2 separate regions of the Homo sapiens genome follow, and region 1 is linked to region 2. Evidence: fine-mapped QTL for protein levels in blood plasma. A gene starts in region 2. The other region holds a variant in brackets. All regions are shown on one strand. Distances are from middle to middle.

What was found. PIP is the posterior inclusion probability: the model's chance that the variant is causal. The UK Biobank Pharma Proteomics Project read protein levels with antibody pairs (Olink). The fine-mapping took linkage between variants from a reference panel, not from the people measured, so its PIPs are less certain.
Region 1: its variant is fine-mapped to the plasma level of the SLC39A5 protein (UK Biobank, PIP 0.93).

Annotation. Positions count from the first base shown.
Region 1 is chr12:56,207,341-56,216,408 of GRCh38, reverse strand. RNF41 (ring finger protein 41) reads left to right here. Exons shown (of 7, transcript NM_005785.4): 3 at 2,339-2,451; 4 at 5,841-6,112; 5 at 8,111-8,246; 6 at 8,660-8,763. The coding sequence starts at 2,362. Among named protein-coding and RNA genes, the nearest start is that of RNF41, 10 kb to the left of the region's middle. RefSeq lists a silencer at 8,230-8,279. The variant G/A (reference allele first, on the strand shown) is at 2,266.
Region 2 is chr12:56,226,466-56,232,499 of GRCh38, reverse strand. SLC39A5 (solute carrier family 39 member 5) reads right to left here and starts at 2,449. Exons shown (of 13, transcript NM_173596.3): 1 at 2,378-2,449; 2 at 2,205-2,260; 3 at 1,627-1,669; 4 at 939-1,296. The coding sequence starts at 1,225. It overlaps NABP2 (nucleic acid binding protein 2), which reads right to left. Exons shown (of 7, transcript NM_024068.4): 7 at 2,646-3,486. The coding sequence ends at 3,287.

The DNA.
Region 1 (9,068 bases), 18 kb after region 2:
ATCCCATTCCAGGCCTCAACCCTCTTCTCTGTCGCTCGGGATTCCTTCTGCCCTTGAAAGTCCAGTTCTTAAAACTTCTTTCTGCAGAAAGCTTTCTGTGATTAATCTGTACCATTTGTTCTTTTTTGTATATTTACAACTTACATAAATTATTGACTTTTACTTGTTAATAATTTGCTTAATACGTTTATGTGTTTTTATGTGTTTTTTTTCCTATGTACTCATTGGGCTCAAGCCTACACCTTAGTTTGAGGACAAGGATTATGTGTTTCTTCTTTTTTTTTTTTGAGACAGAGTCTTGCTCTGTCGCCTAGGCTGGAGTGCAGTGGCATGATCTCAGCTCACTGCAACCTTCACCTCCTGGGTTCAAGCAGTTCTCCTGCCTCACCCTCCCAAGTAGCTAGGATTACAGGTGCCCACCACCATGCCCAGCTAATTTTTGTATTTTTAGTAGAGATGGGGTTTCACCATGTTGGCCAGGCTGGTCTTGAACTCCTGACCTCAGGTGATCCACCCACCTCGGCCTCCCAAAGTGCTAGGATTACAGGCGTGAGCCACTGCGCCCAGCCAGTTGTTTACTGACCTCTTCTTTGGGTTTGACCTTTGGGAGCCCAAAGAAGGGGCATGGCGCCATTGCCGCTGTTTGAGTCCTTGCTCTTTTGGACCTCTCTTTTTTTTTTTTTTTTTTTTTGAGACAGAGTCGTGCTCTGTCACTGGGCTAGAATACAGTGGTGCAATCTCGGCTCACTGCAACCTCCGCCTCCTGGGTTCAAGCGATTCTCCTGCCTCAGCCTCCCGAGTAGCTGGGACTACAGGTGCGCACCACCACGCCTGGCTAATTTTTGTATTTTTAGTAGAGACGGGGTTTCGCCATGTTGGCCAGGATGGTGTTGATCTCTTGACCTCATGATCCGTCTGCCTCAGCCTCCCAAAGTGCTGGGATTACAGGCATGAGCCACCATGCCCGGCCCTCTCTTCTCTTCTTTATCCCCATCACCACCACCACCTAAGTTCAGACTCTTACCGTCACTCTCCTGACTTAGATGTTCTTCCGGTCTCCAGTTTCTCCCCTGTTAACATACTGATTCTAAAATGGAACTATTATCACATTGTTTTTTAAGTCCTTCAGTGGCTCTCTCATACCCTTCAGAATAAAGTCCAAAATCCTCACAGACTTTTCACAGCATGGCCCTTGCTTGCCTCTCCAGCCTTGTCTCTTGACAGGCCCTCCCTCCCACCTCTCAGGTCAGCCTTTTCTTGAATCACTTGAAATTCTCTGAACCTATCATATGCCCTCTTCTGGGCATTTGGATGTGCTATTTTATGTGCATAACACCCTAATGCCCTGCTCCCCCAACATTTAGCTGACTCTTGCCCTACAGGACACGTTTCTGGTGACGCCCAGTCCTGGAAAACTTGTCAAAACCACCCTCTGCTTTCAGCCTGGGTTAGGTATTCATGTCTCTTGTCCTCATAAGGTCCTGTCTCTACTCTGAGTATTTATCACTTTATATTTTAAATGTGTGCTTATATAATGTCTTCCCCCATTAGAATTACATTTCTTTTTTTCTTTTTTTTTTAAGGCAGAGTCTTACTCTGTTGCCTAGGCTAGAGAGCTGTGGTGCAATCTCGGCTCACTGCAGCCTCTGCCTCCTGGGTTCAAGTGATTCTTGTGCCTCAGCCTTCCAAGTAGCTGGGATTACAGATGTGCATCACCACGCCCAGCTAATTTTTGTATTTTTAGTAGAGCTGGGTTTTCATCATGTTGGCCAGGCTGGTCTTGAACTCCTGACCTCAGCTCATCTGCCTGTCCCGGCCTCCCAAAGTGCTGGGATTACAGGCGTGAGCCACTGTGCCAGGCCTTAGAATTAATTTTTTTTTTTTTTTTAGAGACTGAGGCTCGCTGTGTTCCCCAGGCTGGAGTGCAGTGGCGCGATCTCGGCTCACTGCAACCTCTGCCTCCTGGGTTCAAATGCTTCTCCTGCCTCAGCCTCCCGAGTAGCTGGGATTACAGATGCGCATACCACACCCAGCTAATTTTTGTATTTTTAGTAGAGACAGGGTTTCACCATGTTGGCCAGGCTGGTCTTGAACTCCTGACCTCAGGTGATCCGCCTGCCTCGGCCTCCCAAAGTGTTGGGATTACAGGCGTGATCCACTGCACCTGGCCAGAATTAAATTTCTTGAGTCAGCTTCCACCGAGCCAAATGACTGCTGCATAGTAGACTCCCAGTAAATATTTGTTGGATAAATGAATGGATCTTG[G/A]CAATGAGTGTATGTTTGTCACATATTTGTAGGCTTCTTCTGAACTGGCCTCTTTTTCCTGTTGTCCTTTCAGGACCTGGGTTTCAGTGATGAGACATGGGGTATGATGTAACCCGTTTCCAGGGGGATGTTGACGAAGATCTTATCTGCCCTATTTGCAGTGGAGTCTTGGAGGAGCCAGTACAGGTGAGTTGGTCTGATGGCAGGTTTGGTGGGGCAACAGGTAGCAGTGGAACTAGTAGAAAATATTCATGGGCAGCGGGACCCATGGTGAAGTCACTGTGTTCTTCTCTCCACCCTCACCCAATAGAGATTTAGGTCAAAGGAGTAATGGTGACTACAAGAATAAGGCCTTCCAGAATCAATCTAGAGGTGGATGCCACAGAGATCCAGTGGTTCAGATTTTTTTCTGAGGTCACTCTGAAAGATTTCTCCTGTAAAACAGTCAGCTGCTTGTTTCTGTCTTGTGATAGTAGCTGGGTAGCTTCCTTTCCTCTACAGGAACTCTTACTAGGTTCCATCTTCCTGTCCGTGATTGAACTTCTGGACTCTCCTAATAAGTTCTCTCTGCATTTTTATGATGTAGTGCTTCAGGTAATCAGCCAGGCTCCCTGCAGGCCTCTTCTACCTGCCTACTGTCTAACAAATAGGAAGGCTGGGCACAGTGGCTCACACCTGTAATCCCAGCACTTTGGGAGGCCAAGGTGGGTGGATCACGAGTTCAAGAGCCATCCTGGCCAACATGGTGAAACCCCGTCTCTACTAAAAATACAAAAATTAGCTGGGCGTGGTGGCACACACCTGTAGTCCCAGCTACTCAGGAGGCTAGACAGGAGAATTGCTTGAACCCGGGAGTAGGAGGTTGCAGTGAGCCGAGATTGTGCCACTGCACTCCAGCCTGGGTGACAGAGTGAGACTCCATCTCAAAAAAAAAAAAACAAAAACAAATAGGAAGTGGGGAACTGTATGTACTGACCTATTTTTTTCCTGGGATCTACTGAAAAGACCAGCTTTTGATACAGCCATGCACTCTGCATTTTGATGTGAAAGCTGCCACCTTCAATAGGTCATTTCTCTGCCAGCCTTGCCAGACCAGAGTCAGTTGTATCATCCTGGGGCAAGTATGAGGAGAAGCTCACGATTACCAGGCAAGTACAATGAGTGAGGTGAATCCTTAAGAGTTGTATTCATGGGACAGCATCCTCCAGGATCCTTATTGCCCTCATTCTGTAAATACCAATTAATCCTTTCTCTTTCCTGGCTATCTAGAGATTATCACATTTTCCAAACCAGGACACTAGGCAATGAGGTTTCATGGCCCTTCCCCCATTCACTGCTCACCTAACTCCCAGGGGCTCCCCTTGAGCCTTTATTTTTTCTCCCAGTACTACTCCAAAAGGAGTACTGATGCCTTGAGCTGAATAAAATTCAGACTGCATTCCAATGGCAACCAACTCTGGACCTGTCTTCTTTCTAGGCCTTTGCAGTCTGCTGCCATTAGAGGCATATTAGATGGGTGTGGAGCAAGTCATCAAGTAGTAGTGTCAAGAGGTCACAGGGTGTGTCAGGTTCCCTCCTCACCCTGGCAGGGCCTTGTCTGTTTTCTGGCACTATCATTTTAGGCAAGTCACTTATGGAAAGGTGAGTCGTAGTTGGTGACAGTCTAGTCAGAAGCCACCCATCTACCTCCAGGCTTTATCTTCTGAGGAGCAGAGCAGGCAACCCTCATGATGCCAGGTTCCCAGACACATTTCTAAGGTTAGAAGGCTCCTGCTAGGGATGCTGATTTCCCCACATCATAATTATTTATTTTTTGAATAGGTGAAAAATGAACATAGTTCAGAAATCAAAAGGTATACAGTGAGAATTCTCACTTCTGTCTTTATTACTGTGCACCTAATTCCCCCACAGATAACTATTTTTATTAGTTTATTTGGTATCCTTCCAGTGTGTCTTAAGGCAGATATAAGCAAATATGAATAGATGTCTGCATATATATGTATTTGTGTATACATATGTATATATGAATATATCTGTGTTTCACCATGTTGGCCAGTCTGGTCTTGAACTGATCTCAAGTGATCTGCCTGCCTTGGCCTCCCAAAGTGCTGGGATTACAGGCATGAGCCACCATGCCCGGCCTTATTTAGCTTTGTTTTGTTTTGTTTTTTTGAGATGGAGTCTCACACTTTAGCCTAGGCTGGAGTGCAGTGGCATGATCTTGGCTCACTGCAAGCTCTGCCTCCCAGGTTCACGCCATTCTTCTGCCTCAGCCTCCTAAATAGCTGAGACTACAGGCACCCGCCACCACGCCCGGCTAATTTTTTGTATTTTTAGTAGAGACAGGGTTTCGCTATGTTAGCCAGGATGGTCTCAATCTCCTGACCTCATTATCCGCCCACCTCAGCCTCCCAAAGTGCTGGGATTACAGGCGCCATCCACCATGCCTGGCCTAGCTTTCTTACATTGAATTTTTGCCAGTAAATATGTCCTCCTCCTCTCTAAATCTATCATCTGAATTATCCTTCAAGACCCATATCAAATTCTGTCCTCTTCATAAATACCTGCCGTGATTGAGCTAGCCTGAAAAGACCTCACCCTCCTCTGGACATTTTTGGCAATTATTGTGTATGCAATCCAGATGGCAATTAATAATTGGCTGCCTTGTGTCATCTGTCCTATTGTCCTAGAATATCATTTGTATCTCTTATTGTTATATAACTTTTTACTTGTTTGTCTTGTTTCACAACTCATTTTTAATCTTGAGCACAGGGAATATATATATATATATTTATTTATTTATTTTGAAACAGGTTCTGGCTCTGTCACCCAGGCTGGAGTGCAGTGGTGCAGTCTTGGTTCACTGCAACCTCCGCCTTATGGGCTCAAGCCATCCTCCATCCTCCCACCTCAGCCTCCTGGCTAGCTGGGACTATAGGCACGTGCCACCAGGCCCAGCTTTTTTTTTTCGAGATGTATTGCCCAGGCTAGAGTGCAGTGGTGTGATCTTGGCTCACTGCAACCTCCACCTCCTGGGTTCAAGCTATTCTCCTGCCTTAGCCTCCTGAGTAGCTGTGATTACAGGCATGCGCCACCACCCCTGGCTAATTTTTTTATTTTTAGTAGAGACAGGGTTTCACCATGTCGGTCAGGCTGGTCTTGAACTCCTGACCTCATGATCCGCCTGCCTCGGCCTCCCAAAGTGCTGAGATTACAGGCGTGAGCCACTGCGCCCGGCCTATGCCCGGCTAATTTTTGTAATTTTTGTAGAGATGGGGTTTTGTCATGTTGTCTGGGATGGTCTCAAACTCCTGAGGTCAAGCAGTGTGCCTGCCTTAGCCTCCCAAAGTGCTGGGATTACAGGCATGAGCCACCGTGCCCAGCAGGAAACGTATCTTAAGCCTGTCCCCTACAATGCCTTGCCCGTAGTAGATCTATACTTTGCTGTGACCCAGTGGACCTCTTGTCGTAGAGGCTGCTCAAAGGCTTGATTGGCTTTGTAGAGTTATATCATATCCAGGCTCTTAGGTCCTGCTAATTCCCTTGCGCCCCTTTTGCCTTGTTCTCTCTTCTAGGCACCTCATTGTGAACATGCTTTCTGCAACGCCTGCATCACCCAGTGGTTCTCTCAGCAACAGACATGTCCAGTGGACCGTAGTGTTGTGACGGTCGCCCATCTGCGCCCAGTACCTCGGATCATGCGGAACATGTTGTCAAAGCTGCAGATTGCCTGTGACAACGCTGTGTTCGGCTGTAGTGCCGTTGTCCGGCTTGACAACCTCATGTCTCACCTCAGCGACTGTGAGCACAACCCGAAGCGGCCTGTGACCTGTGAACAGGGCTGTGGGTGAGATTTGTTCCCTTCTGCCCCACATGGATAAGGGCCATCTCATTTATGCCCCTGTCTCTGGCTGCCCTCCTCACTAGCTGAGGAGGTCTCTTTGGCATGTTGGCAAGGAGTATTCTTAGCCTCCTTGGCTTCCTGCTCTAAGATCTTACTTTCTTGCTGCTTTTCCAACTATAATCATTTTGCTCTTGCTTTAACAAAAGAAGGGGCACAGCAATTTAGTAAATTTGTGTAATAACATTAAAGCTTGATTGACTCTATTCTTCCCTTTCAGTCCAATACTACTTTCCGTTTGTCAGGTTGACTGCTATAATTGCCAGCCTTCTCATATTTCCTCTTGCCCTATTTTTTTATTTCTGTGGGTTATGAAATATTCGACTAAATGTTGATAGCTGAAGGGCATGTTAGCTCACACCTGTAATCCTAGCACTTTGGGAGGCCGAAGTGGGCAAGTCACTTCAGGCCAGGAGTTCAAGACCAACCTGGCCAACATGGCAAAACCTTGTCTCTACTAAAAATACAAAAATTAGCCAGGTGTGGGGCCGGGCGCGGTGGCTCACGCCTGTAATCCCAGCACTTTGGGAGGCCAAGGCGGGTGGATCACGAGGTCAGGAGATTGAGACCATCCTGGCTAACACATTGAAACCCCGTCTCTACTAAAAATACAAAAAACTAGCCAGGCGTGGTGGCAGGCACCTGTAGTCCCAGCTACTTGGGAGGCTGAGGCAGGAGAACGGCATGAACCTGGGACGGGGAGCTTGCAGTGAGCAGAGATTGAGCCACTGCACTCCAGCCTGGGCAACAGAGCGAGACTCCGTCTCAAAAAAAAAAAAAAAAAATTAGCCAAGTGTGGTGGTGCTCGCCTGTAATCCCAGCTACTCAGGAGGCTGAGGCATGAGAATCACTTAAAACCAGAGGTAGAGGTTGTAGTGAGCTGAGATCGCGCCATTGCACTCCAGCCTGGGTGACAGAATGAGACTCTGTTCCCCCTAACTAAAAAATAAAAAGAATGTTGATAGCTGGGGCTGTGAATATAGGGCTTCTCTGAAGGAATAAGTGCACAGGCAGAATCTGTAGGAGGAAAAGGAGAGCTGTGCAGTAGATAAAAACAGTGTGTCAAAATAAATAAATAGGCCCCGTGCGGTGGCTCACGCCTGTAATCCCAGCACTTTGGGAGGACGAGGCGGGCGGATCACCTGAGGTCAGGAGTTCAAGACCAGCGTGGCCAACATGGTGAAACCCCATCTCTACTAAAAATATAAAAATTAGCCAGGTGTGGTGGTGGGCACCTGTAATCCCAGCTACTCGGGAGGCTGAGGCACAAGAATTACTTGAACCCATGAGGCGGAGGTTGCAGTGAGCTGAGACCGTGCCATTGCACTCCAGCCTGGGTGACAAGAGTGAAACTTGGTCTCGAAAAAAAAAAAAAAAGGCCAGGCGCGGTGGCTCACGCCTGTAATCCCAACACTTTGGAAGGCCGAGGGGGGCAGATCACGTGAGGCCAGGAGTTTGAGACCAGCCTGGCTAACATGGAGAAACCCCATTTCTACTAAAAATACAAAAAGTTAGCCGGCCATGGTGGCGCGCACCTGTAATCCCAGCTACTCGGGAGGCTGAGGCAGGAGAATCGCTTGAACCTGGGAGGCAGAGGTTGCGCTGAGCTGAGATCATGCCATCGCACTCCAGTTTGGGCAACAAGAGCGAAACTCCGTGTCAAAAAAAATAATAAAAATACAAAATAAAATAAATTTAAAAAATAGATAAAACACTGTGTCTTGATTGGGGAAAGAAATTTAAGGAAAATAGACAGCAAAGGGGCAAGTAGGAAGCTTGGACGAAGAAAGTGAAGGGAATAAACAAGAGGGAGGCCTGAAATGAATGTTAGAAATTTTGGGTAGGACAAAATCTACTTAGCAGTTATCTGCCACAGAATAGGCCATTTGCATACATGTCCCAGGGATCACCTCTGTTCTGCTCTTTCCCCACCCTGGTCTGCAGCCTGGAGATGCCCAAAGATGAGCTGCCCAACCATAACTGCATTAAGCACCTGCGCTCAGTGGTACAGCAGCAGCAGACACGCATCGCAGAGCTGGAGAAGACGTCAGCTGAACACAAACACCAGCTGGCGGAGCAGGTAGGCCCCAAGACACGGGGGAGAACATATCCCTCATATGCAGATAACTGCCTGCCTGTGGGTAATAAAAACCAGTTGTGAACACACAGACCAGTGCTTACACTTGTGAGCCTAGATGAGTGGATATTCTGCCTGTGGCTTAGCAGGGAATCAGATTGGAGCTCTCCTTGACTTTTCTTCATCCCATTCATAGCATTAATTCACCTACCAGTTATCACATGCCTCCTCTGTGAAGGCACATTTGTAAGTACTAAGGAGACAGCTGTGAGTGAGACAGTCTTATCCCTGTCTTCCTGAAGCTTACAAACTGGTTGTTCTTCAGATCTCTCAGTTGCCCTCATTCTTGGATAAACTTTTGTCTTTTTTCTGCTGTCTGCCTTAACCATTATTCCTGTTCTTCTTCCCCACAACAGAAGCGAGACATCCAGCTGCTAAAGGCATACATGCGTGCAATCCGCAGTGTCAACCCCAACCTTCAGAACCTGGAGGAGACAATTGAATACAACGAGATCCTAGAGTGAGTGTCACTCAGGACGTGGAGTGATTTCATGTCCTGACAACAAGGCCTGAAAGGAGGAAGAGCAGGAGAGTAGCAGAAGGAGGGCATTGGAGAGCTGGGCTGGGGGTCACTGCTTCTCAGATATTGGCATTAAGGACAGGGGCAGAGGAGAAGAGGATAACCCTTAGCTCCACTACAGGATGTCTTATGTGTTTGGGTGGATGGAGGGAAAGCCTGCCCAAGGATGCACTTTATCCAGAATTAGGTGAGTACCCATGTACAAAGCCCTGTATTAAAGGCTGTGGAGTGCTAGGAGGGCCAAA
Region 2 (6,034 bases):
AAAAAAAAGGACGACAACCAAAAGGGCTACGAATGGCTGGGCACGGTGGCTCACGCCTGTAATCCCAGCACTTTGGGAGGCTGAGGTGGGTGGATCACCTGAGGTTGGAAGTTCGAGACCAGCCTGACCAAAATGGTGAAACCCCGTCTCTACTAAAATTGCAAAAATTAGCCCGGCGTGGTGGTGTGTGCCTGTAATCCCAGCTACTCAGGAGGCCGAGGCAGGAGAATCGCTTGAACCGGGGAGGCAGAGGTTACAGTGAGCCAAGATCACACCACTGCACTCCAGCCTGGGCGACAGAGCGAGACTCTGTCTCAAAAAAAAAAAAAAAAAAAAAAGAAAAGAAAAGAAAAAAGAAGTCTACGAATTTGGAGCCAAATCAGCCCAGAGACACTGAACAGTGATACTAAGAGCAAGAAATTTAAGGGCTTAGAGATTTGGAGGAGGAGAGAATTAGAAGGCAACGGAGGGCTAGGGTGGTAGTTCACATCTGTAGTCCCAGCACTTTGGGAAGCTGAGGCAGGCAGATCGCTGAGCTGAGCCCAGGAGTTTGAGACCAGCCTGGGCAACACAGCGAAACCCTTGTCTCTGTAAAAAATTTTTAAAATTAGCCGGCTGTGGTGGTGTGTGCCTATGGTCCCAGCTGCTCAGGAGGCTGAGGTGGGAGGATGGCTTCAGCCTGGGAAGCAGAGGTTGCAGTGAGCCGTGAATGTGTCACTGCACTTTAGCCTGGGTGACAAAGCGAGACCCCCAGTCTCAAGAAAAGAGAGAGAAGGCAATAGAAGCATGAGAGGTTTTGAAGAGATACCAAGGAGCTCGGTTCTGAAGAATTTGTAACTCCAGGGATCTCGTGAGGAAGCCAGAACGAGGCAACTGGGGGCAAGCACTGAGAGGACCTGGGAGATGTGGCCCTGTGGAGTGGAGGAAGGGGTCAGTACCTGTGTGTGGAATTGTCTGCAGCTGGGGATGCAGCCCGTCCAGTCAGAGGCCCATGCTGTCCCAGGCGAAGCCCCTGAACTCGGCCTAGCCCCAGGCTGTGGAGAAGCCGCGCCAAGCCCCCTGCAGTCAGCGTCCCATTCTCGCCGTACAGGCCAAACAGCTGGGCCAGGTAATGGTTCTGCTCCTGCTCAGCAGGGCCCAGGTTGGGGACTGAGCCCCCTACCCAGCCCAAGACGACCCACACACAGAAGCCGGCCAGCAGATGACTCACTGGGGACCCCATCATTGGTGAGGGGAATAGCTTAGGGGCTCAGGTTCTGGCTCCTATTCTCCCCGAAACATCCTGAGGACTGTGCCCTGGAAGAATGAGGAATGGGCTGGAGCTGCGCTCTGCTCTCCAGCTCAGGTCCATGGGGGAGCCAGAGCTCCTTGCACCTGCTCCCCACCGAGTCCAGCAGCAGCCCCTACTGCAGCCTTCTTTCTCCCTTCACACTGCCTCCTGCGGGAGCAGCCTCTTGTTTGCTGGTTCCTGGAGCACCTCCCTGAGTCAGAGCTCTCCTCATACTTCATCCAGAGCTGACCGTCCATTCCTTGTCCCCTAAACCCCACCCCTCAACTTTGCCCCACCTCTTTATCCCCCCTCAATCCCCAGGGCCTCACCCCTACTGGCAACATAAGAGCTGTCACCTCAGGTCCCCTATTAGGCCTTGCTGTAGACGTTAAGCAGTTCCTGAGTCAGGGAAGGGGGAATCCAGGCTTAGCCTCCAGGTGTCCAGGTGGATCGGAGGCCACGTCACATAGAAGGCTGAGATGGACATGCACCCCCTCCTAGCCCACCTGCCTTGGGGCGGGGTCAGGGGTGGGGCCAGTGTGTGAAGGCTCACATAAGAGAGGAGTTAATGGTTCACTGGTCTCTGGGGTAGGGATCAAAAGTCAGTCTCTGCTGGGCCCCTGGGTAGGGAGGGGCCACCCTCTGCCCTGGGAAAGCCACATGGCTAAGGAGAACCTGGGCCTAGTCTTTTTCCTCTTAAATAATTCACCCTATCCTTAACACCATTAGTACCATTTTAGCCCTTTCCCTCATGTACTTCCACCCCACCTACCTTACAGTCTAGCACTAAACTTCATCTCCAACCCCCATCCCCATATTCCTTGGGAAGGTTGGACCCAGGTGTCCCTAACCTGGGGAGGAGGGGGGAAAAGGCAGATCAGTGGCAAGCCCAGATGCATGCATGGGAAATAAACTGTTCTTAGCAGTTTCTCACCCCAAGAAGAGAAAGAGCCAGAGCTCTAGGGATCGATGACCAAGAAAGGGGAAGCCCTGCGGGGGGAGAGGAAACAAGGATCTGGGCTCTCCTCTGATGTCTGACCTGGCCTAAAATCAGGCAAGCAAAGTCTGATCGGGGTGACTGGTCCAGGGGGTTGAGGTTGGCATTACCTGATAGCAGGAGACAAGGACACCCAGAGGAAGGGGGACACAACCTTCTTGGTTCCAGCTGGGGGGGCAGGCAGGCAGGCGGGCAAGGGTCACCTGCAGGGAGGGGGTAGGGGAGGGACACTACCTTAAAGGGGCAGGTCTGCTTTGCCTGGGCCTCCTTACCTGTAACCTATTTTCCTTCCACCTTCTAGGGACACCCCACCTTCCCAAATGCCTAGTTGCTAACCTCTTCCTTTTCCCACAGAAAGCAAAGGAGTCCAACACAGAGTAGAGTGGTAACATTTATTAGGAAGGAGAGACTTCAGTTAGACTCCCATGTCTCACACAGAAGAAACAGATGGTAACTGCCATTTCTTTCTTTCTTTCTTTCTTTCTTTCTTTTTTTTTTGAGATGGAGTTTCGCTCTTATTGCCCAGGCTGGAGTGCAATGGTGCAATTTCGGCTCACCTCAACCTCCGCCTCCCGGTTTCAAGAGATTCTCCTGCCTCAGCCTCCTAAGTAGCTGGGATTACAGGCATACGCCACCATGCCTGGCTAATTCTGTATTTTTAGTAGACACGGGGTTTCTCCATGTTGGTCAGGCTGGTCTTGAACTCCCGACCTCAGGTGATCCGCCCACCTCGGCTTCCCAAAGTGCTGGGATTACAAGCGTGAGCCACTGCGCCCAGCCAGTAACTGCCATTTCTAAAGAGGAAAGAGAGCAGGCAGAGGGTCCTGACTCCCAGGGGACAGGTAGTTCAGCTGGACAATGAGGGAGTATGAGATTAGGGTGGATAAGGACACTGCTCACCACCCTCCACTGAAGTTCAGTGGCTAAAATACTGCTACACCAGCCAATCAGTGGAAGGCTATCTTGCTCTCCAGGGGACACTTGGGATGTGGTTGGTGGCAGGAAGAAAGAATGTCATGCTATCTCTTGCTGCTCCTCCGGGTTTCTTTGCCGTTACTAACAGGGTTGCTGGAAGGGCCAGGCGGGCCTGCAGGTGTGTGGTTGGGCTGGCTTCGAGTGATTCGGGTGCTGGGTGGGTGGGAGGGAGTATGAGGGGGATGTGGGCCACCACCGGGACCTGGTGGGGCACTCAGTCCATTCCCATTCTGGTTCTCAGAGGCTAATTGTGGGAGGAGAAGAAACAAAGGAATTAGTTAACATAGGAGAGGGGTCCATCCCAAGGCCTGTCTCCATGCCCCAAAGAGTGGCACAGTCTTCACCATGCACAACTGCATCTTAATGCCAACTGGACCAAATGCAAAAGACTGTGGGCTGCGAGTATGAATGGAGCTCCAGAGAAGACTTACACGATCATTTAGGAAGTTGCTACATGAACCTCGGTACGGTATTTTTCTCTTGTAGTTATCTCACTATTATTGGGAATCAGACCTAGAATTAGCTGTTTAGTTCTAGGCTCAGGGACCTCTGACAAAAATGCCCCTTTACTGGGCCAGGCGTGGTGGCTCACACCTGTAATCTCAGTACGGTGGGAGGCTGACGCGGGTGGATCACGAGGTCAGGCATTCGAGACCAGCCTGGCCAACATAGTGAAACCCCGTCTCTACTAAAAATACAAAAAATTAGCTAGGTGTGGTGGCAGGCGCCTGTAATCCCAGATACTCAGGAGGCTGAGGCAGGAGGGTCGCCTAAACCTGGGAGGCAGAGGTTGCAGTGAGCCGAGATTGCACCATTGCACTCCAGCCCGGGTGACAGTGTGAGACTCCTTCTCAATTAAAAAAAAAAAAAAGGCCCCTTCACCAAAAGTGATTATAAAACTGGAGAAGCATGGCAAGGGGAAGGGCCTGAAGTCTCTGCGTTAAAATATGAGGCACTTAAAAAAAAGGTGTGTATGAGTGTACGATAATGATAATGTTCATTTTAGAAAATATAGATAACCATCAGTGAAAAGATTATTATTATTTTTTATTTATTTATTTTTTTGAGTTGGAGTTTCGCTCTTGTTGCCCAGGCTGGAGTGCAATGGAGCGATCCCAGCTCACTACAACCTCCGCCTCCCAGGTTCAAGCAATTCTTCTGCCTCAGCCTCCTGAGTAGCTGGGATTATAGGCATGAGCCACCACGCCTGGCTAATTTTGTATTTTTAGTAGAGATGGGGTTTCTCCATGTTGGTCAGGCTGGTCTTGAACTCCCAGCCTCAGGTGATCCACCCACCTCGGCCTCCCAAAGTGCTGGGATTACAGGCGCGAGCCACTGCGCCCAGCTAGTGAAAAGATTATTACACGTAATCTTACCCACCAAAGCTAATAACAAGTCACATTTTTGTGTATATAAATATTTATTTTTTAATTTTTACTGTTTTAGAGATGAGGTCTCACTTTGTCACTCAGGCTGGAGTGTAGTGGTGTGATCATAGCTCACTGCAGCCTCAAACTCCTTGCTCAAGCAATGCTCCTGCCTCAGCCTCCCAAGTAGCTAGGATGATGGGTGTGCACCGCTGCGTCTGGCTTATATTTTCAATGTTTGAAGCCAGGTGTGTGGGATGATTTGTTTGAGCTCTCACAACTCTGGACATACCACTGTCATTGAACTTAACCATGGCGTATTATAATCATTATCTCTCTCCTGTATAAACCACAAGCCCCTAAAGGCAGGTAGTGTGTTTTATTCCACGGCAAATAGTAGGTGCTCTAGAAACATTTGTTATATGAAGGCAGAGGTTTGCTTCTTGCATACAGTAGGGACTATGAACCCTAAATGGCATGGAAGTTATAGCCTAGTGGTTCTTTTTTTTTTTTTTTTGAGAAAGAGTCTCACTGTCGCGCAAGCTGGAGTGCAGTGGCATGATCTCAGCTCACTGCAACCTCCACTTCCCAGGTTCAAGCCATTCGCCTGCCTCGGCCTCCCAAGTAGCTGGGATTACAGGCTCCTGCCACCACATCTGGCTAATTTTTGTATTTTTAATAGAGATGGGGTTTCGCCACGTTGGCCATGGCTGGTCTTGAACTCCTGACCTCAGGTGATCTGCCAGCCTTGGCCTCCCAAAGTGCTGAGATTATAGGCATGAGCCACTGCGCCCAGCCAGTCTAGTTCTTAAACCATATCTCTACTGAACCCTGCTGCTCCACTGGACTAAGATATCTGCAGCCCATGGCTGGGCGCGGTGGCTCACGCCTGTAATCCCAGCACTTTGGGAGGCTGAGGTGGGTAGATCGCCTGAGCTCAGGAGTTCGAGACCAGCCTGGGCAACATGGTGAAACCCCGTCTCTACTAAAATACAAAAAATTAGCAGGGCATGGTGGCGTGCACCTGTGATCCCAGCTACTCAGGAGGCCGAGACAGGAGAATCACTTGAACCCAGGAGGCAGAGGTTGAAGTGAGCCGAGGTCACACCATTGCACTCCAGCCTGGGTGACAGAGACTCCATCTCAAAAAAAAAAAAATTAGCCGGGCATGGTGGCAGGTGCCTGTAATCCTAGTTACTTGGGAGGCTGAGGCAGGAGAATCACTTGAACCTGGGAGGCGGAGGTTGCAGTGAGCCGAGATCACGCCATTGCACTCCAGCCTGGTTGACAAGAGCGAGACTTCGTCTCAAAAAAAAAAAAAAAAAAAAAAAAAGGGGTCTGGGAGAATTGGGTGAAGGAGGATACACTGAGAAAAGAGAGATTTGGAAAAGGAATGAGGGAAATGCATCTTTCTAGGCTGAGGAG